Regions from separate parts of the Homo sapiens genome. Here region 2 is linked to region 1. Evidence: fine-mapped expression QTL. Tissue or cell type: fibroblasts. Region 1 holds a variant in brackets; the other region holds the start of a gene. All regions are shown on one strand. Distances are between the middles of the regions.

Region 1 (2,767 bases):
ATACAATTATGCAGAGTACATAATACTTGATAATTATAATAAAAGACTATGTTACTAGTTTACGTAGTTAATATACAAATGTGTTGTTATTTTAGAGTGTATTCCTTCTACTCACAGAAAGCAAGTTAACTCTAAAACAGCCCCAGGCAGGTCCTTCAGGAGGTATTCCAGAAGAAGGCATCATCATCGTGGGAGATGATAGCTCCGTGTATGTTATTGCCCCTGAAGACCTTCTAGTAAGACAAAATGTGCTTTTGGTATGATACCTAAAAAATCATTGCCACATCCAATGTCATGAAGCTTTTCCTCTGTGTTTTGTTCTAAGAGTTTTGTCATTTTAGCCTTTATGTTTAGGTATTTTATCCATTTTTAGTTCATTTTTGTATGGGTATGCCACATGCAAGTTAAGGACCCAACTTTATTCTTTTGCGTGGGTTATCCAGTTTCCCTAGCATCGTTTGTTGAAAAGGCACTCAACTAACTTTTACTGAGATCCTTAATACAATGAGAGGAGATGTCATATAAAAAGTCTCAGGATTAAGAGAAAAGAGCTCTCATACTCATTTTCAGGCCCAGCCTTCTTTCTCATCTATTATTGGTTCCTTTTTACCAGTGGGGCAAATGAAGCCTGGGATGGTTAAATAATTCCAGGTACCCTGCCCCAGGTACCACAGCTAAGTAGCAACTGTGTCTTAATGTTGCTTTTGAGAAGGTGGTGTTGCATCATTTGCTTTCATAGTTTACTTGGGGAAGGGGATGTTCCTCAGGGAAGGCAAATCCAAATCTGCAGAAGACGGAATGACAGTTTGAAAAACTGTCTTCAGTATGACTCTTGTTTCATAATACAAACAACATAAAGTAAAACTCCTCTGTTGAAAGCTTGTGGGGCTGTACAGATGTTAGAGTGCAAGCGTTGGATGAATGTGAACTAAAAATGCTGGGTAAACATAGGTCTAGTAGGTATTAGCTCATTACAAGTATGTGTACACAACCAGTCCTTACTGAGAAAAGACATTTCTAGATGATATAGCCAGTGAATTTAGGAATTTATGTCTTAGTTTTCGGCCCCCAGACCATTTTTTTTTTTAACCTTGCACACAGAATTACCCCAGGCTTAATAATAACTGCCTTGGTTCTGAAGTTACTCAGTCTCTCCAGTTGCTCTGGGTACTTAAATTTCTTTTCCAGTTACAACAATCTACTGTAGGTAAGGGAATTGGGGTAGAAAGACACTCCAAGACAGTTCAGATTGCATGTTTATAAGGAACCTTGACATAGAGATT[A/G]TTGAGTTAACCAGACCATTGTTGCATTTCCCAGGAGCTCTGACAGGCCATGGGGAAATCCTCTCAGGCCAGGAGAACAGCGGTCCTGAGTTCCAGAAATTACAGATGGAGTAGTGATTCTACTCAATCTGTAACTGGTATTACAAGAGGATTGGTATGAGGACCCGGGGAGGTGCTGGTGGCAGCTAGTTCTGGAAGCCATTATGTGACTCAGGGATAGGTGGGATGAGAGGATAAAGAATAGAAACTAATGAAATGGCAGAATCAGAACATTTATTTTATTTTAAAGCTTTATTTATAATTCACAGATAATATTAGTATATATTTATGAAATTCAGGACATTTAAAATAAGCTAATAATGGAATTCTCTCCAGAAGGGCTGTTTCAATTTGCAGTGAATGAAAATGCTGGATACCCTATGATCTGACAGCACTTGGGAGCATTTGTTTTAAAATTTCATGGCCAATATTTACTTGGAAATTACCTCATTATTTTAGTTTGTATTTCTTTGATTATTAAAGAACTTCAGAATCATCTCATTTGTTTGCATCATTTATATTTCTTTTGTAAATTTTTTATGTGCTTTGTTGATTGATTTGTAACAGTAACTTGTACATTAGGAAAATCAGTCCTTTGTCTGTCATTTGTATTGCAAATATTTTCACAGATTTGCCTTTTGAGTTCATTTATGATGCTTTTAGGCTCCAAAAATGTTAAAATTTGATGTAGTTAGATTTATTCATTTTTTTCTTTTATAGCTTCTAGGTTTTCTATTGATATTAGAAAGGCCTTGTCTCCAAGATAATCAAATTATTTACCTTTTTTTTAGATTTGCTACAATTTCATTTTTTATGTCTCACATCTTGAATCAATCTTGAATTTATTTTGCACGCATGACAGTGCAAGTTTCCATCTCTCTGAGAGATTGCTGGGCAACATGTCTCCCTCTGGAATCCGAGCTCCAGGAGGGCGGGCACTTAGCTTGTGCTGCTTGCCAAAGTGATGCTGGTGCCTGGCACAGAGCCTGCCACCTGGTAGGCACTTAGTAAGCTCTTCTTCAATTAGTACATGATAACATTCTAGAAGATAGAGGGATGAGCTGAATCTAGCAGGAAGAAACCTTTATTTCTGGATTTTATCCTCTAAAAGAAATAGAAATAGAATAAAGCATGCCCAGAAAATGAAAACCAAGGTGGTGAAGGAAACAGAAACCAAATTAGAGGAGGCACTGGGGATGCTTACTTTGGAAAAAATTCAGTGAAGAAATCTCTTCTTTTGTTTAGTGTTAAGGAGATGGATGCCTTGGCTTTTAGAGTTTAAGAAAGAGCTCTGGAAGAAACTGTTCAAAGAGGGGATGGGTTGTCTTTGGAGTTGGTGAGTTCCCTTTCCCCGGGAGTGCTCAATTGTAGATACATGGTTTCTTGGGGACTGTTGTGGAAGATTCAAACATCAGGAGCCAAGCAAATGAGTGATATGGACTCAG
Region 2 (2,615 bases), 430 kb after region 1:
ATTAAGAGCCAACTGAGTAGTGGGCCTTGTGCTAGGGCTCCGAGGGCCCAAGGACCCCATGGAACCAGATTTAGTCGCTGACCTCTAGGAGCTCACAGGTGAGTGACTCACACACCGGAAGACGAGATCAATAATGTAGACATGAACGCTGGCTAGCCAGTCCCAGAGGAGGTGTCATCTGACCAAACCAAGGCAAGTCTGGGCAGTTACGCAGACACCCCGAGAAAGGTACGCCAACGCCCAGATAAAAAGTAAGAAAAAGTAGGAAAAACCCTCCCATCAGACCAGCAATTGGCTCGACGCTTGAGCCCGGATGTACGGCACGCGTCGCGACCTAACCCGGAAACACTGCCTCCCGAAAAAAAGGTAAACTCTAGACTGCGGAAAGTAAACTACCTTTCCCGTCGTGACTCAGTTAGAACCTCCCGGCATCCTCTCCACCTCTGGTTTCCCATCTATTTTTCCTAAAGCCTAGGCGAAATAAGACTTCATCTCCCAGAATGCCCTTGGTTAAGTTAACGGTGCGCATGCGCCAAGAGGCGGGCCCTCGTTGCCCCCACAACCCCGCCTCCGTTTTGCCGCCGCCATTTTTTCAGAGACTTTCATCCGGCAACCGACGGGGCTTTTTTTCTTAAAGGAGAAGCGACAGCTCAAAATACTACCCCCTTCTCCGCGCAAGATCTGGCGGCGCTGGGGACAGAAAGGCCAAAGACAGGAAAGTGGGGTAGGGTGGAGGCGGAAGAACGCCCAGGCTACTTCTGCGGCCTAAAGAAGAATAGAAAGAGCCCTTGTGGTATCAGTGGCTCCTCAGGGAGGCAGGTGCGCGCGCAGCCAGTCTAGGGTTTGCGTGAGGCGGGGAAAGAGGTGCGATTTCTTCTCACCCGCCTCCCTCGCGAGACCTGCCCCTCGCACTGCCCCTAGCGCGCGTTGAAGTCTGGAGGGGGGAAAAAGGTCACTTTGGGATTGTCGCGAGACACAGCCGTTTAACGGTGAGAACGGGTGCGCGGGGAAGGAAACCTCGCGCGCTCCCCTTTTAGCCGTTTCCTGATTGGCTGAAGGAAGGGGTGGGGGAGGGAACCTGGGGCGCCGCTGCGTGTAAGACTGCGAGGGGCGGGGTGAGGAGGCTTGTCCTCTTTTCCGATTGGCCCGCTGAGCGTCTGTGGCGCGCGCGCGCGCGCCGCCAGCGGTAGCGGACCTTGAGTGGCAGGGGGTGGGGGGGGCGCCCTCGGAGCCGGGCGGAGGGGAGGGGGGAAAGAGGAGCGCAGGGTGAGAGTGAGCCGCAGGCTTCGGGAGGCGAGGGGGCGGGGGGAGCAGCGCCGAGGCCGCCGCCTCCGCCTCCGCCGCCTAGGACTAGGGGGTGGGGGACGGACAAGCCCCGATGCCGGGGGAGACGGAAGAGCCGAGACCCCCGGAGCAGCAGGACCAGGAAGGGGGAGAGGCGGCCAAGGCGGCTCCGGAGGAGCCCCAACAACGGCCCCCTGAGGCGGTCGCGGCGGCGCCTGCAGGGACCACTAGCAGCCGCGTGCTGAGGGGAGGTCGGGACCGAGGCCGGGCCGCTGCGGCCGCCGCCGCCGCAGCTGTGTCCCGCCGGAGGAAGGCCGAGTATCCCCGCCGGCGGAGGAGCAGCCCCAGCGCCAGGCCTCCCGACGTCCCCGGGCAGCAGCCCCAGGCCGCGAAGTCCCCGTCTCCAGTTCAGGGCAAGAAGAGTCCGCGACTCCTGTGAGTAACAGTCTTTCAGGCGGTGGGAAAGACCCCCCTCTGTCCGTACGCAACCCTCTCGGCTCCCGTAGCGCCTACTCCACGTGACATCCTGCCTGGTCTGCCCCCTGCCGGCTCCGCACGCCAGATGTCACACCGTTTCCCCGGGAGCCTTCGTGCCTCCTCTCTGCGCCACCCTCATCTCGCTCCTGTACCTTCGCTTGTCGGGCCGTTTCCCCACTCCCCGAAATCATCTTTTGATACACCCCTGCACTCGCTAGTGATCCACCTCCTCCCTGACACCCGCAGGCTCATCCCTCTTTCTGGCATCCGCACCCCCTTTGTCACCCTATCCCTTTCCTTTAGGCGGCTCTCCAGTATTACATCACATGCCCTTTAGGGAATACACAGCCCGATCATAGCCTTCAAAAATGATTCCCCCCCGCCTTCGCGTTAGCTCAAGAGCCAGATGTACTAGTGTGTTTATGTAGCTTTTTTTTTTTTTCACTTTTCTAAATTTTTCGCAACCCTTCTCATTCTTTTGAGAAATTTGCCACTTATTATGGTCAGGTTAAAAGCCCACTGCTACGATTTTAAGTATGGAGTCTTTCATATAAAATTATATGAGCATTCTTTAATGTTTGTTTTTACTAAGTAGCATATGTTTTATCTTTGTGTTTCGTGTTTTTAAATGTAGGAACTTCATCCTTGAAATTAGAATCATCTGAGAGGAATTCCTTTATTACCTAGACGTAATAGAGGAAACATGAACAGGTGGCCAGGAGCATTGTCTTAAATTGTTCGTTAAAATAATACTCATGTTAAGAATACTGAAGCACACAAGTTTGTAAATTCTAGAAATTAATCACATTGACTATTCAATTCATGACTGAAAACATCATTAGTGACCTTTGATT

Evidence for each region. PIP is the estimated chance that this variant, and not a neighbour inherited with it, causes the effect.
Region 2: it holds the start of ZFP91, and the variant in region 1 is fine-mapped to the expression of ZFP91 in fibroblasts (GTEx, PIP 0.91).

What each region holds. Positions count from the first base shown.
Region 1 is chr11:58,150,701-58,153,467 of GRCh38, forward strand. The region is part of intron 2 of OR9Q1 (olfactory receptor family 9 subfamily Q member 1); the gene reads left to right. Among named protein-coding and RNA genes, the nearest start is that of OR9I1, 27 kb to the left of the region's middle. The variant A/G (reference allele first, on the strand shown) is at 1,284.
Region 2 is chr11:58,577,904-58,580,518 of GRCh38, forward strand. ZFP91 (ZFP91 zinc finger protein, atypical E3 ubiquitin ligase) reads left to right here and starts at 1,160. Exons shown (of 11, transcript NM_053023.5): 1 at 1,160-1,719. The coding sequence starts at 1,379. ZFP91-CNTF (ZFP91-CNTF readthrough (NMD candidate)) reads left to right here and starts at 1,211. Exons shown (of 13, transcript NR_024091.1): 1 at 1,211-1,719. It also overlaps a transcript of LPXN not described here. RefSeq lists enhancers at 14-533, 152-844, 564-793, 1,538-2,229 and a silencer at 1,214-1,633.